Linked DNA regions of Homo sapiens. The protein of the gene in region 1 interacts with the protein of each later gene in a pairwise test. Each region holds a gene or a part of one and is shown in the gene's direction. Other genes may lie near its edges. The genes, in order: ALX1 and UROC1.

The links.
Region 2: the proteins of ALX1 (region 1) and UROC1 interact in binary tests that used the Homo sapiens proteins (3 or more experiments, as listed by UniProt).

What each region holds. Positions count from the first base shown.
Region 1 is NC_000012.12:85,296,949-85,302,310, forward strand, and holds the end of ALX1 (ALX homeobox protein 1), read left to right. Parts: intron 1-4,206; coding exon 4,207-4,527; 3' UTR 4,528-4,836; downstream 4,837-5,362. UniProt on the Homo sapiens protein: Sequence-specific DNA-binding transcription factor that binds palindromic sequences within promoters and may activate or repress the transcription of a subset of genes.
Region 2 is NC_000003.12:126,480,591-126,486,995, reverse strand, and holds the end of UROC1 (urocanate hydratase), read left to right. Parts: intron 1-3,527; coding exon 3,528-3,627; intron 3,628-4,510; coding exon 4,511-4,651; 3' UTR 4,652-5,830; downstream 5,831-6,405.

The sequences.
Region 1 (5,362 bases):
ATATAATTTTTCCTTTAACGAATCAGAGTGCGATTTTGATGGGCTTCCCAGTTGACAAAAAAGTAATAGGCACTTTTAGATAATATGCACATGGATTTATACTTTCCAGGGCATAGTTTAAAAATTACTGCCTATATGAGAATATATTGGTGTAGGGATGGAGGAACAGTGTGAGTCCAGCTTGATAGCACTATAGTCAACCCTTAGCTCAAATAATGTTGTTGTTTAATCAGATCTAGATGGCCTAGAACAAAGATTTTATCTGCCAGCTTTTTCCTACAGCAATCAGATGATATGCAGTGTATGATATTCTGGTGTAAATGCTATGTATTGGTAAGGGTAAACGGTATTGATAAGCTCAGACATATCCAGAATAACATGATCTGAATGATACAGTGTCTAGAAACCAAGTCATATGAGGAATGGTTAAAAGCACTGGAGATGTTTACCTGGAGAAAAAGGATTTGGGGGTTGTATCATCATGCCCGATTACATTTTAAGATTTTTACATGTAAGAAAGATGATCTTATTCTACGTCATTATAGGGCACATAAATGGAAGCCATAGGTAGAGGTAGAGGAATATAACAGCTTACTTTTATAGAAAAGAAATGGAATTTTTTTTTAAACAGGTGAGCTTCTTATCACAAGAGGTAAACAAAATTGGTGTACAAAGAATTTTTCATTTGGAAGGAAGTTGGACTCCAGTAGTGTTTCCTAATTTCAATTGATTTTCAGAATTCCATGTGTGTATTTTATTACTATTATTTTAATACAGAGCCCCTGAGCCATACTAAATGAATCAGAGTCTCCAAGGATATGTATCTGTTGTGGAGAATCAGTGTTTAATAATAAAAATAAAGAACTTCCCAGGTAAATGCAGTTAGCAAGGTCTAGGAATGTAATTTTCATGATCACTGTTAAGATTATTGAGTATGGTGATTTGGGAGTTCATATTATGAAACAAAAATTTTGATATATTAACATAAATCATCCATAAAATTTTGATTATATCTGCAAGATGGATCAGTCCATATTTTTCAAGCACTTAATAACTTTGTATTAAGGACTTACCTTGTACCACATTAGACCTGAGGATGACAAAACAGTTGTGAGAAATAATTGTGGGTTTTTCTTTCAGAGAGTAGAGACTATGAACCTACACAAAGTAGGGATAATGAGTAAATAAATAATTTCAACTCATAAAACTAGTCATTATTACAGCATTTCTAAGGTTTCCTAGGTTGAGATTTGACCTCCACCATTGGAACTATGCAATCTTGGGTGATCTTCTTCAGCTCTGTTCTATAGTGTTACCATCCTCAAAAGGGGGATAGCAAAAGAACACGCTGTTTAGTGTACTGAAACAATTAAAAGTGTTCATAATATATTTAACATAATGCCTCACGCATGGTAATTAATTGGTAACCATTAGCTATAATGAACATGGTCTTGAGCATCATCATCAAATGTTTAAACACCCAGAGGGCAGGCTTCAGAGAAGTAAAATCACAATATACCGAGGATATTATCTTTTATGAGTTGCATCTAAATAAATTTACAATGTGGAAACCAACAATGTTTCTAAAGTCAAATAAAGATTTGCTGGAAATTTAAAAAAGGAAAGATCAGCAGTGGTGCTGGGGAGGGGGAAGAAATAGATATTTTGAAAACAAGATAGATCAGTAAAAATGTGTGAGGATATCTCTACCTATGGGAATAAATGACAATCTTCAAAATATTTAGGGTATCTTCACAAGCCCAACTAAAATATTGTTATCATATTTACTTTACCAGTCTGTTCTGCCCAGAAAAACATGTCTATATGTTAGAAATTATTTCATCAAAAGTAATGCATATAACGTGCTTGATCATGTCCAGATAAGAAGTTTTGATCAAAATAAAATTTGCTTTTTTATGTACTCTACAGAATATTTTTCAATTTATAGGTAGATTTATGTTAATTATGTTAGGGAGGCAATATTTTCTTAATTTATATCTATAGGTTACCTCCCTTGCCTTTACCTTTCTGATTTTAGCTTTTTCATCTAGTTGGTGAACATATTTCTGTGCATTTGGAATATGAATGAATGATTTTAATAAAAAATTCAAGAAACTGTATAAATCAAGCAATTCTTTAACAAACAAAATATAAATAATCCTTCTCTTTCATTATGTTGTCTTCCTTTTTTTTTTTTTAAGTAAGCAAGCAAAGTTCACTTTCATTTCTGAAAGCTCTTTTATCAGACATGTGACTATGGTTTTTGCCGAGTAGCACAATGTGTGTGATTGAATGTCAGAGGAAAATCACGCAGATGAAGTTAGAAGAGGTAGTTTGACAGAGTAATGACATTAGCAGCCCTCTTGTTGGTTTGATATACATAACTCAGCAATCACTGATACCAGTCATTATGTTTTGCCTAAAGTGGAACACATATAGTAGAATGAGCCAGAATTAGAACATAGCCTGAGACAATTTAAGGATTAACAAAATATGCAAATCATATATATATATAAAATATATATGTTTAGATATGGATATGTAGATTTCTCTCTTTGTCTCTTTCTACATATGTATATATTTAACAACTTTAAAGCAGCTTATACATATATTTATATAAAGAATTATTTTTTAAGACAACCCAGATATGTAAGCACCTTGCCAATCACTGAAACCCCACCTAAAGGTTGAAATTACTTATTAAGGTTTTTCTCTTACGTTTTGAACCTGGTTAATCAGTCCTTTCTTGAGTGACAGAGTACCTTTTTACCAGTGTGATCTAGAAGATTTATTAACATATTTTTTGCTCTTATTTGAAAATTAGTTGCCATAGAAAGTACAACTCAAGCATGGGTATTGTAAGACTACACCAGACCTTATATGTAGGTGCCTGGAATCTTTATGTAGAAACAAATATAGGAAGACATATGTGTCCTACTCATTGATGATTCTACTCTTACATCATGATTTTAAAAGATAAGGAAACCTGATGTGATTAACATGTGTATTGCTGCTATGTTCTAGTCCAAATGTATTATAATAATGTTGCTAAAAGCATTCAGTTTTATTTCATCTTCAAAGGGCTGCATCATAGTATTACTATCCCATGCAACATTTTCTTTTTTTACCTTCCCCAGCTCCTGCCATTTGTCATGATTTTCTCTGAGCTTCCCAGTAACGTATGGGGTTCCTGCTTTTGTTTGTTTAAATAGCTTGTATATTAAGATTGAGATATGTCCTACTTAAAATTCATGTTACATAAGGTCTATATCATGTTTCTTTTACATGCTAGTAACTTTAGATAAATTTGTACTTGTTAATATTGCATTGAATTGTTTCCTGTGGAGATTTAATAATACGAAGTGTGAATATCTCGGGTGTGAATGATAAAGCAGTTTCTACTCTATAGGAGTACTATATAACACAAGAGTAACTGCATTATACTCATCTGATGTTTTTGCTAAATAGTTGCACATCTTTCTCAGCTATGATTCCATTATTTGGTAAAGGCCCATGTTTTAAAATTCTAACTTTGTTTTACATGTCACATGTCTGTTTCAAATTCATTATATCATACATAAATCACAGAATAAATTTTTAAAATATGTATATTTACATATTTTGTAATTTCCCAGATTCTCAGAGCTGTTTCTTCAAGACTATAGGATACGAAAAAGCAATAGGAGGGCAAACATGTTCCAGAATAAGTTTGATCAAAAATATCTTTGCAGAACAGTCTATTGTCAGCAATGGTTTCCAACGAAAACTGCCACACCAGGAGTCCCAGTTAGAATTTTTTTTAAAAATGCATTTGTGTCATTTTGTTTAGAAAGACAAAAACTATCTTTAAACTTAAAACCAGATTTTAAACTACTTTTCTAATCGTATGAATTGGTCATGACTCAATCTTCCAGATTCATTTTTAAAATCATGACTATGAAAATAATACTTTTTTATAGGAGATAGACATGTTTGAGAGTACGTTATGTGGCCAAGAATGTGAGATTTGTTGCTCTATTTCAGTATAACAAACTAGAAGGATCTCTCAAGTAATTATTTTTTAGTCATTGTTGTATGTAATTACAGACCACCCAATAGGAGCAAACAATGAATAGTTAACCAAATTTAGTAAATACAACTTAACAAAAGTAAGAGAACAAAAGTGAGAACATGTAAATGTAATATTTGTTGTTTTATATATTCCAGATTCAGAACAATTTGTGGGCAGGAAATGCAAGTGGTGGTTCTGTGGTTACTTCATGCATGTTACCACGTGACACTTCCTCCTGTATGACACCTTATTCTCACTCGCCTCGGACAGATTCCAGTTACACGGGGTTTTCAAACCACCAGAACCAGTTCAGCCACGTGCCCCTCAACAATTTTTTCACTGACTCTCTTCTTACTGGGGCAACCAATGGACATGCATTTGAAACAAAGCCAGAGTTTGAAAGGAGGTCTTCCAGTATCGCAGTTCTTCGAATGAAAGCCAAGGAGCACACCGCCAATATTTCATGGGCCATGTAACATACAGTACTCTTTTATTTTTCTTTTAATAGCAAAGTTAAACATTCTTATTTCTCATATTTAAAGGATACCACAATAAGCTGCTGTGTGTGGAATTGCTAAAGGTCAAGATATTCAGTGAGACCAGCTTAAATGAATAGTTGTTATTTAACATTAAAATCTAAGAATGAACCTCTGAAAAGACTAAATAGGTTTACCATGTGCCAGTCTCCACAAACCCTGTTTTAGTAGTAAGGTTTTCTTTTTCTATTGTACAAGTCAATGAAATATGATCACGCAACTTATTAAAGAATAAATGTGTTAAACAAATTCTTCTGTTATAGATTGATTTATGTTACTTCTGTATAACAAGAAATCTCATGTAAAATAATACCTGATAAAGAAGGAAATGCACTGGGGAAAATGTCAAGATGCCAAAGTCGTCAGGTAAATATTGAATCAGGGTGTTCTGGGGAGTTAACTGCTCTCTCTCTCTCTCCAAAAAGCAGTGGGCAAAAACCCTGTTGCTGAGAATTTATTTTCAAGCCTCATTTTTGTTTTTGTTTTTACCCTTTGATGTTTTAGTGAATTTCCACTCTGTTAAACAAGGGATCTTTTAAAATAACCAACATTCGCATGAGATATTTGGGCATGGTTTCCTGAAGCCACATGGCTAAAGGTGATAACTGAAGTATTCTGGTGTGATTGAAAATATAGTCATGGGAGCGGACTTTATAAATGTCATTTTTCCAGTGAAGAAGCCAGCATAGACTCAATTACTTAATCATCACAAACAAGAAAAAATTTATAAACCTTGCTGTTGCTTTTAAACTAAGATCGTGTTGATTAAACTGTG
Region 2 (6,405 bases), on another chromosome or scaffold:
TGACCAGACACTGGGACCTAAAACCTTTTACCCTGCTGCCCTTGAGGGGTGTTTTGGGAAAGTGCCACAAATTCATCCTGGGACCCATCACACTTACACATGTACATAATCTAACCCATCGGAAAAAATGTCTATCCCTCAACCATGGCTACTCCAAAGGGACGCCACTCCCAATTCTGTCTCCACCGTGGCTACTCGAAAGGGATGCCACTCCCAATTCCATCCCCACCGTGGCTACTCCAAGGGGACGCCCCACCCCCCGCAACTCTGCAGCAGTTTCTCTTTCCTGCGCATTGATCCCTGTTTCCAGGCTGTGCGCTCACCCTCACATTCCTGGACCGAACTTCCCATGTTTCCACTTGTCTGTTGGCTCCACTCCAGGACAACCAGTGACAGCTGTGTGTTGTTTCTAGCCTCCTCTGTGCCACTGTCTCCTGCAGCCCCTCTTCCTGATTGCCCATTTGCCGTCTGTCTTTGTGCCATCTGCCCAGCGCTCACGTTTAAACAGGGCACTACTTGGCTGGCTGCAGCCCTGCATGCTCAGGTGGACGTTTGGACCGCAGGCTGCAGGACAGAGCCATCTGGCTGGGCCACAGAGTGCAAGAGATCAAGACAAGAGCCAGGCTCTTGTTCTTGGGTTGGTTGGACCTCAGAAAAGACTTTTCTGATCTCCTTTCCCTATTGGGAGGACCCAGTCAGAGGGGTGAGGCCTCCCTGTTGGTGCTGCGGCCTCACATGTGAGAGGGTCAGTTCCAGTGGCCACCGAGGGCCCACTCGGGCAGCCTCTAGGCAGCAGGTGGGTGGGCATCTGGGAGCCCACCTCAGGTGAGCAGGCTTCCAGCCGGTGTTTCCAACTTTACCTCTGCTCTTGCCCTCCTTCGGAGCCCCTTGGTGCTGACCACCAGCTCCTGAGGTTCCCTGGGTCCTGGGGCGCCGATGGATTCTGCCGGTCCCTCCCATGGCCACACTGCGCTGGAGCTTTCTGATGCCTGCCTCCAGCTTTCAGAATCCCATCACCCATTCTCCTGTCCCTTTCTCCTCATCCTTGTGGGTTAAATAATTCCTCTGCAGTTTTGTTGGTGAGATGCAGGAGGGGCAGGGGTAAATGGCTGTGTTCTATCCACCATCTATTATATATCTGGATACTGCCACTTTTTCACACTAAACAATGTCTTACAGTGCATCTGAAACTTGAATGTGCACAGAAATCCTCTGGGGATATCATTAAAATGCAGATTATTGTATAGGCGTGCACCACCAGGTCTGAGTCAGGCCTAGTGGTGCACGCCTATAGTCCCATCTACTCAGAAGGCTAAGGCAGGAGGATTGCTTGAGCCCAGGAGGTTTGAGTAAAGCCTGGGAAACATAGTGAGACACCCTCTCTACCAAAAAAAAATAAATAAATAAATGGGGAACAAAGAAAAAAAAGCAGGTGTGGGGTGGAATGGAGATTCAGCATTTCTAGCAAGCTCCTGGTGACGCTGATCCTCTGCCCCGAGGACCTCTCTGAGTAGCCAGGGCTTCCAGGGCCCTGTCTGTGCACACAGCCCTCCCCCACCCACCCACACGCCTTCTGCCCATGTGCAGGGGATGATGCCCCGATGGACAGCCCTGGAGTGCCATGATTGACAGCAGTTCTCAGGCCATCTGCCTGCACAGGGTAGCCTTGCTGTGCCTTTGTTTCTCAATGAGAAAATAAGCATAATAATAACAACTGCCTTGTAGGCTAGGGGTGAAGAGGAAATGAGCTGATGATAGCGAACGCTTGTAGAGTGTTAACATGTGCAAGGCCTTCTACACTATTCATGTATGTTAACTCATCGAATCATGCACTTTAATACATCTGGCATTTATGTTTTTCTACTTTCATGTTTTTCTCAAAGGTATAGTTAGTTGTTCCAACACCATTTGTGAGTTACCTCAAATTCACCATTAATAGCAATGTGTTAGCGTTCCCATTTTCCTGGGATCTGCAAGTTCAGAGTTCCTCTGTGGTCAGTTTGCCAAGGTCACCTGAAGCTGAGCGGCCTTGGTCTCTGACCCTCTGGGATGCAGGCTTCTAAAACAAAATCTGTAGTTCTAATCTCCAAGAGGCCTCTCTAGCTGCAGGACACTGGGAGTGCTCAGGCCTGGGCATGGCTGTTGCTCCTCTGACAGATGAATGGTAATGACCTTAGATCGACTTGGAGCACCTCCCACCTGGAGGCTGGTGGGAGGTGTGAGGGCAACCCACTGCAGGCCATGGACTGCCCAGGTGCAGGGATGCAAGTGCAGGGTGGTAGGCAGCACAGCTGGCTCACTTGCAGGAGGGGTGCAGCTTCTGGGACCAGGAATGGGGAGTGTAGGTGGCTGCAAGGGGCACAGGGCACCTCTCACTGGCTTCCTGGTGAGAACTGGCTGAGGTTGTGGTCAGTAGGATTCAGGCTGGGCAGAGAAGCAGGGAAAGCTGGATGGGCCTGAAGGATTTGAGACAAGGGAAACTAGATGCACATTTTGCATGCTGGAAGAAAAAGGAACAGATATACTGCAAGTGAGGAATAAGAGGCAGGAGGGACACATTTGCAACAACACAACGACAGGCGTTTACAAAATTAAGGGTGCTTCTTGTGTAACTGAAAGCTGAGAAGACTGAGCAGGAGCCAAGGCTGGATGCTTCAAGGGCAGCAGCTCGTAGGTGAATGGCTGAGGATGGGGAAGGTCATCCCAGGCTGATGGGGAACAGCTCCAGTGCACATGCATGGAAGCAGCAGCAGAGCTTCAACACAGTTAATGAAGTTCAACTCATCTACTAGGAAACAAATGAAACCAAGAACATATCAAAAACTGTTAGAAGGAGAGAAATGCATTAATTAGAAAACCAGAAATATTGAAAATAAAGGAACTTAGCCTTCAGATCAAATAATCAGAAGGACCCCCCATACACTTGAGGCAAGCAGAAAGAAGAGATAAGGAAGATAAAGATCATAAGGATAAAATCAGGTGGGGGCACAGTGGCCCATGCCTATAATCCCAGCATTTTGGGAGGTCGAAGCAAGAGGATTGCTTCAGGCCAGGATTTCATGGTCATCCTGGGCAGCATAGTGAGATACCATCTCTAAAAAAATATTTTTTTTAAAGATAAAACCAGAAAGAGTGATGACTGAATTGAGTAATACAAGACACACCAAGGGGAGTGTGCTTTATAGGGCAGCACTCTGAGAATGCAGGGAGGGGGCAGCTATAGCCCACTGGGGGTACCCAGGAGGTTTCCATCAAGGGATGACCTCCAATGGGTGGTGGAAGTGGGCACGAGGCCGACAGGCCCAGCACAGGGGGCACAAGTGGGCAGAGAGGTGGCAGGTAACCACGCTGCTCCCAGCTGTGCTTGCCTGCACGACTCCTGCATCCACCAGGTTGCAGAGGCTGGCGGTGTGGCGGCCCCAACCCTGACGCCGTCTCAAGCCAATGCTTCCAAAACATGGGCTTCTGCCTGCTCTGTGCAGTGTTGGGCCCCAGGAATGAACTGGAAACTCCTCTGCCTCCTGCAGGGGTGAGGTGATCAACGGGGGATTCGGCCTCGTGCTGGACGGTACCCCGGAGGCCGAGGGGAGAGCCAGGCTGATGCTCAGCTGGGATGTCTCCAATGGTGTAAGTCAGCCCAGTCCTTGCCACCTCCTGAAGGCAGGGCCTTCAGCTGGGTGATCCCCATCCACGTTTGCTGTCATACAGCATCTCCTGGGTGTGGGGATGGGGGCCGGATTCCTCTCATGACCACAGCACAGCAGCCAGGAAGGGGGAATCAGCTCAAATGGAGGTCAGGTCAGGTGATGATGGGGAGACAGGTGGGACCCAGAGAATGAGGGGAGGCTTGGAGCAAAGGCGGGAGTTCAGACAGCTTGGGTGACTGAAAGCCCCTGGGCTGGGCCCGGAGCGTGAGCATGAGGACAGAGAGGGTGCTGGCAGGAGACTCACCCCATCTCACCGGGAGCTGCAGGGCTTCTGGCGGAGCTGGGGATGGAGGTCTTCATCCCAGAGCAAGAGGTTTTGTTCTAGGAGATGCCCCGGCTGTGGCATGGAAAAGTGGGTTGGGGGCAGGTGTGGTGACTGTGTGGAAGGCGGAGGCGGGGGTGGCAAGAATGGCAGAGGGGAATGGGGGAGGAGGCGTGGCATCATCCAGGGGAGACCAGGTGGAGGGAAGAAAGAGGACTGCAGGGACATTGTGAAGGTAGAGCTCAGGCTGAGGTGGATTCTAGAAGGGAGGGAGGTGCTGCGGAGGACTCAGGAGGCAAGGCCATTCTTGGAGCTGGGGGAGCAGGACTGAGTGTGATGACCGCCAGTTTCAGATCCCAGAGGAGGGCCAGAGACAGGGAGCCTAAGCTGGGGGTGGAAATGGGGCAGACACAAAAGGGCAGCTGTCCCCACGGACAGCCTCAGAGGTCCCGAAGCAGAGAGGCCCCAAGTGTGGGAGCCAAGACTCACGTGGGGAGCCCGGTTATGTTGACATGGACTGCTATCCCCCTCCTTGCCCTAGGTGGCCCGGCGCTGCTGGTCAGGGAACCAGAAGGCCTATGAGATCATCTGCCAGACCATGCAGGAGAACAGCACCTTGGTGGTGACACTGCCTCACAAGGTGGAGGACGAGCGGGTGCTCCAGCAGGCCCTGCAGCTCTGAGGGAGCCAGGAGTCGCGGCCCCTGCCTCCCTTCCTCCCTGGCGATCCTCACCTGCCCAGCCATGGCACACACCCTTCCTGCACACCCGCACTACCTGCACTTCTCGCACATCCTCACGTGGCCCTTATGGTGCCCTGTGCAGGGTGCCACCACAGCCTCATTTTACAGACAGCCCCCTGAGGCCCAGAGACATGCAGCTCTCTGTCCACAACCATGCCACTTGCATGGGAGCCCTGAAGGCTGTCAAAGTCCATTTAGGGCCAAGTCCCAAGCCTGCCCGGGGGCCCTGCGGTGAACACTGGTCAAGCTCTCTCCGGCTGGGATGATCACACCCTCTGCTTCCTGGCCACCTGCCAGCCTCCATGCAACTCTGTCTGTCTGCTGCCCATCTGCTGTCTGTGCAAGCAACTTCTGGACCCTGGCACCCTGGGCTGCTGGCCTGGAGGAGTTCGGGAAGGAGGATAGACCAGGAAATAAAGGGTCAACAGAGCTGTGTGCTGCACTGTGGGCTGGTGGGACGGGCAGGCCGGGTCTGCCCTAAGGATAAATGATCACTTACTGGGGAAGAAATGAGAGAGCAGGGGCACCCCCCTAGGCCAGCACAGCCTGAGGGGTACAGCAAAGGGGACCCTTTGCTGGCCCCTGAGGCTGGAGTCTGGCACCCCTTCCCCAATCCCATAGCCCGGTAATGACTGGGTCCAGAGCCTCGTGAGAGGTCACCGGGATGGGGGAAGTGGCCTCTGTCAGGGCCAGGGCTCATGAATCTCATTCTCTTAGCTGGGCGTGCAACAGACCAACAGATAACTCATCCTAAACAGAGAAATGAGAAAGAGTCTGTGGGTGGGCCTCTGAGGGCCACAGAAAACCAGACACCCCACATGTCGGTGGATTGGAGAGGGGCAGGCCACTGCCCTCTCCAGGACCAAGCCGGGTTCTTGGTCCCCACCCTCCCTGCACTCCGCATCTCCTCCCCAGCAGCCATTCTCCCCTTTCCCTTGTGAACAAAAGCCTAGTTTTGTGTGGGCAGCAATATAGGGTAAATAAAACCACCTGATTCTCCAGCCTTCCTTGCTGTTAGGAGGGACTGTTGGCCTAGTCCTGGCCCACGAGATGAGGGTGGGGTCTGTGGGGCAGGGCTTCTTGAGAGCCGTCGTTTTTCTAATAAAATGGACAGATCCAGCGGGGTTGCTTTTTGCCTTCGCCCCTTCGTCCTGCCAGAACCAAGATGTGGGGCCTGGAAACACAGCAACCAGGTTGGTCAGCTAGGGCGGCTGCCACATAATGTCTGGCACTGGGGCCCAAACAACAGAAATGAAACACATTTGCAGGCTGGAAGCCCAAGACCAGGTGCCAGCTGGCGTAATTCCTGGTGAGGCCAACTTCTCACTGCATCCTTCCATGGCAGAGACAGAGAGGGGAGAGTGTTACAGAGAGGGGCAGAGACAGAAAGACAGAGACAGAGAGGGGAGAGTGTTACAGAGAGGGGCAGAGACAGAAGGACAGAGACAGAGAGGGGAGAGTGTTACAGAGAGGGGCAGAGACAGACAGAGAGTCACAGAGAGAGACAGAGAGAGAGGAAGAGACAGAGAAAGAAAGAGATACAGAGAGGAAGAGACAGAGAAAGAGAGAGATAGAGAGAGTAAGAGACAGAGAAAGAGAGAAAGACAGAGATAGTGAGAGAGACAGGACAGAGTGTGTAGGGACGAATCGTCTGTCCCCACATCTCCATGAAAGCACCCTGCTGCATGGATCTG